3 separate regions of the Homo sapiens genome follow, and all the other regions are reported to be linked to region 3. Evidence: microRNA targets listed by miRTarBase, many of them from high-throughput screens and not tested one by one. Region 3 holds a microRNA gene; each other region holds the end of a gene's coding sequence.

Region 1 (3,176 bases), not on the chromosome of region 3:
GATTATGGTTTTGATTCTGTTGAAAACACCATTCCTGTCCTCTTGATCTAGATCCAATAGAGTAAGAGAAGAGGCCTGGGCTGCAAACTCAAAGGCTGGCAGGGGCCAGTCAAGTTATTTTAAAATATGATGTGCCAAGTTAAATAAGGCTGTTGGTGAATTTGGGACTGCAGGCCACTTGTTTGAGACTGCATTTATAAAGGTGTTCTCTGATAGGGAGCAGGGGTAACAAAGAGCCTTTGTTTTTTGTTGTTGAATTGATGAAATTCATGTAAATGTAGTGGCACCTTGCTGTTTTCCCTTTCTGAGGCTGTACACACAGAGGTTAAGATCACAAGCTGTGGAGTTAGACAGACCTGGGTCCAAATTCTAACTCTGTGTTGCAGCCAGATGGTCTTGGGCAGTAACTTGGCCTGTCTGAGCCTCAGTTTCCTTATCCTTAGAAAGGCAATAATAATACCTACCTCCTGGTGGTAAGGATCACATGAGATAATGCATATGAAATTCAGTACTGGGCCGGGCTCATGAGAAGAGCTCAATGAACAGCAGCTGCTATGATTATGGAACTACTTCTTACAAGCATGTTTTGTTTCTTTCTGCCCTTCCCCCACAGCACCCAGTTTGGCCTTCTCTGAGGTCAGATCGGAACAACTCACTTGAAAAAAAGTCAGGTGGGGGAATGCCAAAAACACAGCAAGCCTTTTGAGAAGAATGGAGAGTCCCTTCATCTCAGCAGCGGTGGAGACTCTCTCCTGTGTGTGTCCTGGGCCACTCTACCAGTGATTTCAGACTCCCGCTCTCCCAGCTGTCCTCCTGTCTCATTGTTTGGTCAATACACTGAAGATGGAGAATTTGGAGCCTGGCAGAGAGACTGGACAGCTCTGGAGGAACAGGCCTGCTGAGGGGAGGGGAGCATGGACTTGGCCTCTGGAGTGGGACACTGGCCCTGGGAACCAGGCTGAGCTGAGTGGCCTCAAACCCCCCGTTGGATCAGACCCTCCTGTGGGCAGGGTTCTTAGTGGATGAGTTACTGGGAAGAATCAGAGATAAAAACCAACCCAAATCATTCCTCTGGCACATTATTTCTAAATAAGTGTTGTTTGTGGAAATCGTCCTATTTTTATGCCTCGGTTGAGGGGGCAAGTAAAGTCCTGGTGAGGAATTTACAGTTAGAAACTTTTGGAAAAACTGAAGTTCCTGGAGGAAAGCCAAACCGTGCTAACACACTAGAGGCTGGTTTTGGTCCTGGGAAAGGTTTGGGGTGAATGGGTTGGAAGTAGGGTATGAATACAGTTTTGGGATTTAACTCAGTGGTTCTTCATTCCTGCTGGTGGCTCCTTGCGGGGCCTCACCACATGCCTCCTAATTTGAAATTTCTGGGTGAAGTTTAGGCATTTGTCTTTCCTGATACTCATGGGTTGCCACAGTGGACAGCCACTGATTTAATTCTTGGTCTGAAATGTGCGGTTCCTATACTTTTAGTTGCTATTGTAAGATTTGATAAGGTTAGTCTTAAAAATCCTTTGGCGGGGGGCATCCAAATTGGTAATGAGGAAGTCAAACTGTCTCTGTTTGCTGATGACATAATCATAAACCTTGAAAACCCTAAAGACTCATCCAAAAAGCTCCTAGAACTGGTAAATGAATTCAGCAAAGTTTCAGGATACATAATTAATGTATACAAATCAGTAGCTTTGCTGTACACCAATAGCAACCAAGCTGAGAATCAAATCAATAACTTAATCTCTTTTATAATAGCTGCAAAAAAAATTAAAATACTTAGGAATATACTTAACCAAGGAGGTGAAAGACCTCTACAATGAAAACTACAAAATACTGCTGAAAGGAATCATAGACAGCACAAATGGAAACACATCCCATGCTCACGCATGGGTAGAATCAATATTGTGAAAATGACCATACTGCCTGTATTTAGTTTGTTTTCATGCTCCTGATAAAGACATACCCGAGACTGGGAAGAAAAAGAGGTTTAATTGGACTTACAGTTCCACATGGCTGCAGAGGTCTCAGAATCATGGCGGGAAGTGAAAGGCACTTCTTATACGGCGGTGGCAAGAGAAAATGAGGAAGATGCAAAAGTAGAAACCCCTGATAAAACCATCAAATCTCATGAGACTTATTCACTACCATGAGAACAGTATGGGGGAAACCACCTCAATGATTCAAATTATCTCCCACTAGGCCCCTCCCACAATATGTGGGAATTATGGGAGTATAATTTAAGATGGGCTGGGTGCGGTGGCTCTCGCCTGTAATCCCAGCACTTTGGGAGGCCAAGGCAGGCAGATCACAAGGTCAGGAGATCGAGACTATGGTGAAACCCCATCTCTACTAAAAAAAATACAAAAAATTAGCCGGGCATGGTGGCGGGCGCCTGTAGTCCCAGCTACTCGGGAGGGTGAGGCAGGAGAATGGCATGAACCCGGAAGGCAGAGCTTGCAGTGAGCTGAGATTGCACCACTGCACTCCACACTGGGCAACAGAGCGAGACTCCATCTCAAAATAATAATAATAATAATACTTTAAGATGATATTTGGGTGGGTACACAGAACCAAACCATATCATTCCACCTCTGGCCCTTCCAAATCTCATGTCCTCACATTTCAAAACAAATCATGCCTTCCCAACAGCCCCCAAAAGTCTTAACTCATTTCAGCATTAACCCAAAGTCTACAGTCCAAAGTCTCATCTGAAATAAGGCAAGTCCCTTCCACCTATGAGCCTGTGAAATCAAAAGCAAGCTGGTTACTTCCAACATACAATGGGGGTAAAAGGTATTGGGTAAATACAGCCATTCCAAATGGGAGAAATTGGCCAAAACAAAGTGGTTACAGGGCCCATGCAAGTCTGAAATCCAGCAAGGCAGTCAAAATTTAGAGCTTCAAAAATGATCTCCTTTGACTCCAGGTCTCACATCCAGGTCACACTGATGCAAGAAGTGGGTTCCCATGGTCTTCGGCAGCTCTGCCCTGTGGCTTTGCAGGGTACAGCCTCCTTCCTGGCTGTTTTCATGGGCTGGCAGTGAGTGTCTGCAGCTTTTCCAGGTGAACGGTGCAAGCTGTTGGTGGATCTACCATTCTGGGGTCTGGAGGATGGTAGCCCTCTTCTCACAGCTCCACTAGGCAGTGCCCCAGTAGGGACTCTGTATGGGGGC
Region 2 (3,176 bases), not on the chromosome of region 3:
GCCCAGGAGGTTGAGGATGCAGTGAGCTGTGATCACACCACTGCACTCCAGCCTGGGCAACAGAGCAAGACCATCTCAAAAAAGAAAAAAAAAATGGTATTCCCTTTAGACTAGAATAATAGGAGAACATAAAAATTAGCTACCACTTAAAAAAAAAAATAGCTACTACTCTACCCAGATACATGTAATTTTTTGAATCTGTTTAAAGGCTGTTTTCACAAAACAAGCACAGAGCTAAAGGTAGTTTAGACATTAGAGTTCATGATATATTGGCAAGCTAATTCCTTTATGAAAATAATTTTCTGCTATTTTTGCACTCAGGAACTGACTTTAACTCCGTAACTTTTTTACTCTTTACCCAGAAATACTATTCTGACCTGCCCATCAGGATGTGAATTGACACACCCTTCCTTTCCTTTACAGAGTCTGCTGAAACGTTACCAGCCCCACCGAGTCCCTTCCACTTGTTGTGCCCCAGTGAAGACCAAGCCGCTGAGCATGCTGTATGTGGATAATGGCAGAGTGCTCCTAGATCACCATAAAGACATGATCGTGGAAGAATGTGGGTGCCTCTGATGACATCCTGGAGGGAGACTGGATTTGCCTGCACTCTGGAAGGCTGGGAAACTCCTGGAAGACATGATAACCATCTAATCCAGTAAGGAGAAACAGAGAGGGGCAAAGTTGCTCTGCCCACCAGAACTGAAGAGGAGGGGCTGCCCACTCTGTAAATGAAGGGCTCAGTGGAGTCTGGCCAAGCACAGAGGCTGCTGTCAGGAAGAGGGAGGAAGAAGCCTGTGCAGGGGGCTGGCTGGATGTTCTCTTTACTGAAAAGACAGTGGCAAGGAAAAGCACAAGTGCATGAGTTCTTTACTGGATTTTTTAAAAACCTGTGAACCCCCCGAAACTGTATGTGAAAGTTGAGACATATGTGCATGTATTTTGGAGGTGGGATGAAGTCACCTATAGCTTTCATGTATTCTCCAAAGTAGTCTGTGTGTGACCTGTCCCCCTCCCCAAAGATTAAGGATCACTGTATAGATTAAAAAGAGTCCGTCAATCTCATTGCCTCAGGCTGGGTTGGGGGAGCCCCACAGCTTTCTGGCTGGCCAGTGGCAATCTACTGGCCTTGTCCAGAGGCTCACTGGAGTGGTTCTCTGCTAATGAGCTGTACAACAATAAAGCCATTGTCTAGTTCTCCTGGGCCAGCTGGTGCCTGTGAAGGCAGAGGCAGGAACTCATCCAAGAGGACCGGCCATGTTGGGTTACAGAAGACATCCCTGCGTCAGTCTGCTTCGGCAGACACAGCCTGAGTTTGTTAAAGTTGGTGACAATCCACCTCAGTCTCTCAATGTGTGCTATTAATGAGGCCTCTGAGCTTCCTATCCAGCAGTGGTGAAGGCCTTGCCCTGGGTGGCAAGATACTTGCTCTATGGTCACAGCTCAGCCACTGGAAGCTGTGCGACCTCAGGTGAGCAATTCACTGTCCAGTCTCCACTTGTAAAAGGAACGCTGGTGAATCCTAATGCATTCATATTAAATGTCTGTTGTCAGGCTCAGAAGAGCCATGAGCTTTAAGCTGTAGACTGAATAGGAAGAGCTACCTTATCCCTACCTCCCTCTAAAGCTTATAAAGCTTGCTAAACCCAGTCCCTGCCACATGCCCTTAATCTAACCTTTATCGGCTCTTTTGTTACTCAGGGTTCTAAGACAGACTTAATTTCAGGTTCCACATGGGAAGCACAGCAAAAGGAGCCTGAGTGAGGCAGCTCTATCCCCAAAAACCCCTGACCACAGTTATCTTCCAGGTAAAAAGACCTCAAAGGCAGCAATTCTGGCTGGGTGCAGTGGCTCATGCCTGTAATCCCAGCACTTTGGGAGGCTGAGATGGGAAGATCACTTGAGTCCAGTAGTTCAAGACCAGCCTGGGCAACATAGTGAGAACCTGTCTCTGTTTAAATAAAACAAACAAAAGAAGCAATTCTGCTCTTAACAGCTTGATCTCATTGAGCATTGCCAAAGCAGGGGCACTTTTTTTGTAGTTTCATGGAGCAAAGGGGCCACTTTATTGGGAATGTGAGCCCACAGTATATCTACCCCATTCTGCTTTCCCAAGAAGCCTACCCACTTATGCTAAAGAAAATGATTCCAATCATTTGTGAACCCTGTTGAGCTCAGACGAACTCAACTGAGGCTTTGGTTGAGTCAACACCATAGTCATGGCCCAGAAAGGGGCTGGATTTGCTGGAGCCAGGCCTGGGCTTGAGAAACCTCAGTGCCTTGATTCCACAACAAAGCTGATCCAGCTGTTCACTGCCTGGACTAGAAATAGACTGCCCAGATCCAACAATTCAGAATCAACAGGATTCTGCATCTGCCCATATACAGAACAGCAGAGCAGGGACAACCTTGTGAGGTCAGCTTGTCTGATCCCCATTCCTAAGTGAGACCCCAGGGAGGCCTCAGGGCCTGACCACACAGCTAGGAGTGGCAGGGCCAAGAGCTGAGCTCTGGTCTCTTGAGCCCTACGGGCACTTACTGCTTAACAGCAACTAGAGGTTTGTGCTCACCTATCTTGGGATCCAAGCCTTAGCCTTTAGAACCAAACATTTGAACCCAATTACACTACTGAACTAGTTCTTAGAAGTGAACATCCCACCCCAGGACTTTCTTACATGGCTGGTGCCAGAGAGCGAAAGGTCAAGCTATTTGTAGCTACAGCTTGTGGGAGTGTTTACAGTCAGCTGTATTGACTCCAAGAACAAACCCTTGACGACAGGGCATTGCCTCATGTCAAATAAAAGTAGTGCACAAAGTAGTGAAACTCTGTGTTTTGCTGACCCCTGCTGAAAGCTCAGTGTTTGCTACGTCAGCAGCAGAGTCATTCTGTTGCCTGGACAGAGTCACTGGGGCAAAGCCTACCTACCCGAGCCTAGGGAATAGCTCCATGCTCTAGGCCATGTGCTTGCTGAAGGCTCTATAAGTCACTTTAAATACTACCTTGGAGAATTGTGTCCTGTCTGAACCTGGGATGTTTTCTGTTGTTTTGATACAGGATCTTGCTGTCAACCAGACTGGAGTGCAGTGGCACAATCATGGCTCACTGCAGTCTTGCCATCCTGGACTCAAGCAATCCTCCTACTTCAGCCTCCCAAGTAGCTGGGACTGCAAGCATG
Region 3 (3,176 bases):
TGTCCCCAGGCTCTCGGCTGAGCAAAATCTATTCCCAGTCCACCCTGTCACTGTCCACTGTGGCCAACGAGGCCCACAATAACCTCGGGGTGAAGAGGCCCACGTCTCGGTGAGTTTAGCCCGCACAGGCGGGGTTCGTATGCCGGGTGGCTTCCCAGAGCCTGGGAGGTGTGTGGGCATCTGGGTGAACCTAGAGGGCGGTATGGCTCGAGTTTATGGATACGCCATGAAGAGATGGAGGGACGCGTGTGGGCACGTGTGCATGGGGCATAGTCTGTACCTGGCAGACAGGACTCAAGCATGTGCCTCAGTGCACTTGAGTGCCAGGTGTTCCTGTGGGAGGAGGACAGCACGGGGCACTGCATGGACTTGGGAGGGTGTGCAGTGTATACCGCCTCCTCTGCAGTGTGTGTGGCCCGCCTTTTTTTTTTTTTTTTTTTTTTTTGTTTTTTTGAGAGGGAGTCTTGCTGTGTCGCCCAGGCTGGAGTGCAGTGGCGCAATCTTGGCTCACGGCAACCTCCGCCCCCTGGGTGCAAGTGATTCTCGTGCCTCAGCCTCCTGAGTAGCTGGGGTTACCCGTGCCTGTAGAGACGGTGTTTCACCATGTTGGCCAGGCTGGCCTCGAACTCCCGACCTCAAGTGATCTGCCCGCTTTGGCCTCCCGAAGTGCTGGGATTACAGGCATGAGCCACGATGCCCAGCCGTGGCCCTTATTTTCCTTGGCCCCTCTGCACATAGGGAAGCTTCCCATCTCTGACCCCACCTCCATCCCATCCTGACCCCACCTCCATCCCATCCTTCTCCCACTGCAGGGCTCCCTCCCCGTCAGGTCTCATGTCCCCAAGCCGCCTGCCTGGAAGCCGCGAACGGGACTGGGAAAATGGCAGCAATGCCTCCTCCCCAGCGTCAGTGCCCGAGTACACAGGTAAGCAGGGGCTCTGGGTGATGTGAGGAGCAACAGGCACCCTCCTCCACAGCCCCTGCTCATTCCTGCTGCCCCCCACCCCCTCCCACTGCCTCACCCTCTAGGTCCACGGCTGTACAAAGAACCCAGCGCCAAGTCCAACAAGTTCATCATCCACAATGCCCTATCACACTGCTGCCTGGCGGGCAAGGTGAACGAACCGCAGAAGAATCGCATTCTGGAGGTGAGCCCGCCCACACGTGGGAGTTGGGGGCTGGTGGGTGGGTGGGTGGCCTGACTTGGCCAGCTGACCATTTCCAGCACTCCTGCCCAGGAAATTGAGAAAAGCAAGGCCAACCACTTCCTGATCCTCTTTCGCGACTCGAGCTGCCAGTTCCGGGCGCTCTACACGCTGTCGGGGGAGACAGAGGAGCTGTCGCGGCTGGCAGGGTATGGGCCCCGGACCGTCACGCCCGCCATGGTGGAAGGCATCTACAAGTACAACTCGGACCGCAAGCGCTTCACCCAGATCCCCGCCAAGACCATGTCCATGAGCGTCGATGCCTTCACCATCCAGGGACACCTCTGGCAGGGCAAGAAACCCACCACTCCCAAGAAGGGCGGCGGCACCCCCAAATAGCCCCACCCGGGCGGTCCACGGGCCGGGCCCTGTGTGCTGCGGCCGCCATCCCCTGGAGGACAGTCAGTCGGTATTCCTGGGTCCTGTCTGTCCCCAACCGTGTCTGGGTGGGGCTGGAGTCTCCACCCTCTGACTTTGAGTCCAGTCCTGCTGTGGGGGCTGAGCTGGGAGGTTCAGGGACTCAGGGCTCAGCTCAGTCCCCTTGTCTGTCCTCCCCCACTTCTTGAATAAAATAATTTAAAGAGAAGTTGAACCTTGTCCCCCCCTCCGAGGCTGGCCGGGGTCCCACACTCCCTGGCTGTGTTTTTAGTCTCCTGTTCTTTCTCAAACCAACTCCTGTCTTCAACCCCCATAATCCCCTAATGCAGCTTCAGCCAGGGCACTCCCAGCCCCCAGCCAGGGCTGTTTCGAAGCTGCCTCTGAACTGATCTCTCAGGCTCGAGGTGTCCCACTGGCCCTTCCTGTGGCCTTGGCCACCCCCGCTTGCTGGATTCTCCTGGTCTGTGTGGCTGTTGTTACTGGCCCTAACCAGCGTTTGGCATGGGGCCAACTTCTAACTTGATCTTGTCTCCCCTGGCCAGCCTGGTGTTTCCAGGCCTGGCATCTACCTCTGGGCCAGTGATTCCAGGTTTCTCTGAGATCTGTGTTTGACAATCCAGTTGCCCCCTGCCATTGCCTGGGTGTCTCTCTCAGATGCAAGGCCTGCCCTGCAACCCAGGCTGGCACTGGCTTCCCAGCTGCCGCCCAGTTCTACACAGCTCAGCCCTCCCCTCCTGTCTCACTCGCTTCTCTCCAGCCCTGTCACCTCCCTGCAAAGTCCAAGCCAATGGCCTGGGCCTCCCCATGTCCCCAGCTGCCTCCTGCCCACACAGCAGCCTGTGTGACCCGTTCGAAGCACAAATCTGATTATATCCCTTGATACTTAAAACCCCTTAATAGCCTACAGCCCGCTAATGGCTTCCCAGGCTTAGGACTAAGGACCACGCCCTGGTCCTGGGCCGTGCACAAGGTCTGGCGCCTGGCCCCCGTCCAGGCACAGAAACGCGTTACTAATCAGTTCCCAGAGCTGGGCCAGAGCCTGCCTGACTCCAAGACTTGAGGGCAAGGGCCAGTCCCTAGTGGGGAACAGACAGTGGGTGCCACCCCAGGGAGGCGGCAGCTGCCTGGGGCCACAGAAGGGCTCTGAGAGGCAGGGGCTGGCGAGACCTGGGCAGCCAGGGGCTGGATTGCCCTTCCCAGGCTACAGAGGCTCAAGGAAGTTTCCGGGCAGGACCCACTCCAAGGCCCCAGGCAGCGGAGGGACTGGCCTCTCGAGTCCAGAACTGGCTCTGCGGGGTGAGGCCGGGCAGTATCTGGCCTGGGGCCCAGCCGCCCCACCTCCCACAGCAGCCAATCCCGGCCCAGGGCCAGGCACTCCTGAGCTGTACTCCCTCGGGCACCTGGGCAGCAGGAAGGAGGCTCAGACCATGATGTACAAACGTAGCTGTATTGGGGAGGGGGTGGGGAGGGGGGATGGGGGAGGGACGGGTCAGTCTTCCTTCAGGCTCCCAAACACTGCGGCTGGCACGCTCTGCTGCTCCAGCCGAACCTCTGTGGGGAAGGCGGGAGCCAGTCACCCTCCTGGCGTTGGCC

What was found. The annotated mature microRNA hsa-miR-6792-3p reads CUCCUCCACAGCCCCUGCUCAU and lies in region 3 at 967-988, shown strand. An mRNA with a match to its seed (bases 2 to 7 or 8) in the 3' UTR can be bound and repressed. Matches are read on the target gene's strand: a 7mer-m8 pairs with bases 2 to 8, a 7mer-A1 pairs with bases 2 to 7 and ends in A, and an 8mer does both.
Region 1: miRTarBase lists JAML as a target of hsa-miR-6792-3p. Seed matches in the 3' UTR shown: 8mer at 883-890 and 8mer at 1,199-1,206.
Region 2: miRTarBase lists NODAL as a target of hsa-miR-6792-3p. Seed matches in the 3' UTR shown: 7mer-A1 at 784-790.

The regions. Positions count from the first base shown.
Region 1 is chr11:118,191,855-118,195,030 of GRCh38, reverse strand. It overlaps JAML (junction adhesion molecule like), which reads left to right. Exons shown (of 10, transcript NM_001098526.2): 10 at 614-1,306. The coding sequence ends at 706. Among named protein-coding and RNA genes, the nearest start is that of SCN2B, 17 kb to the right of the region's middle. RefSeq lists an enhancer at 578-767.
Region 2 is chr10:70,430,336-70,433,511 of GRCh38, reverse strand. It overlaps NODAL (nodal growth differentiation factor), which reads left to right. Exons shown (of 3, transcript NM_018055.5): 3 at 424-1,576. The coding sequence ends at 576. Among named protein-coding and RNA genes, the nearest start is that of NODAL, 9.8 kb to the left of the region's middle.
Region 3 is chr19:7,616,514-7,619,689 of GRCh38, forward strand. It overlaps MIR6792 (microRNA 6792), which reads left to right and starts at 926; the gene lies at 926-992. It overlaps CAMSAP3 (calmodulin regulated spectrin associated protein family member 3), which reads left to right. Exons shown (of 17, transcript NM_020902.2): 14 at 10-109; 15 at 813-925; 16 at 1,030-1,148; 17 at 1,239-1,791. The coding sequence ends at 1,544. XAB2 (XPA binding protein 2) reads right to left here. Exons shown (of 19, transcript NM_020196.3): 19 at 3,012-3,134. The coding sequence ends at 3,073.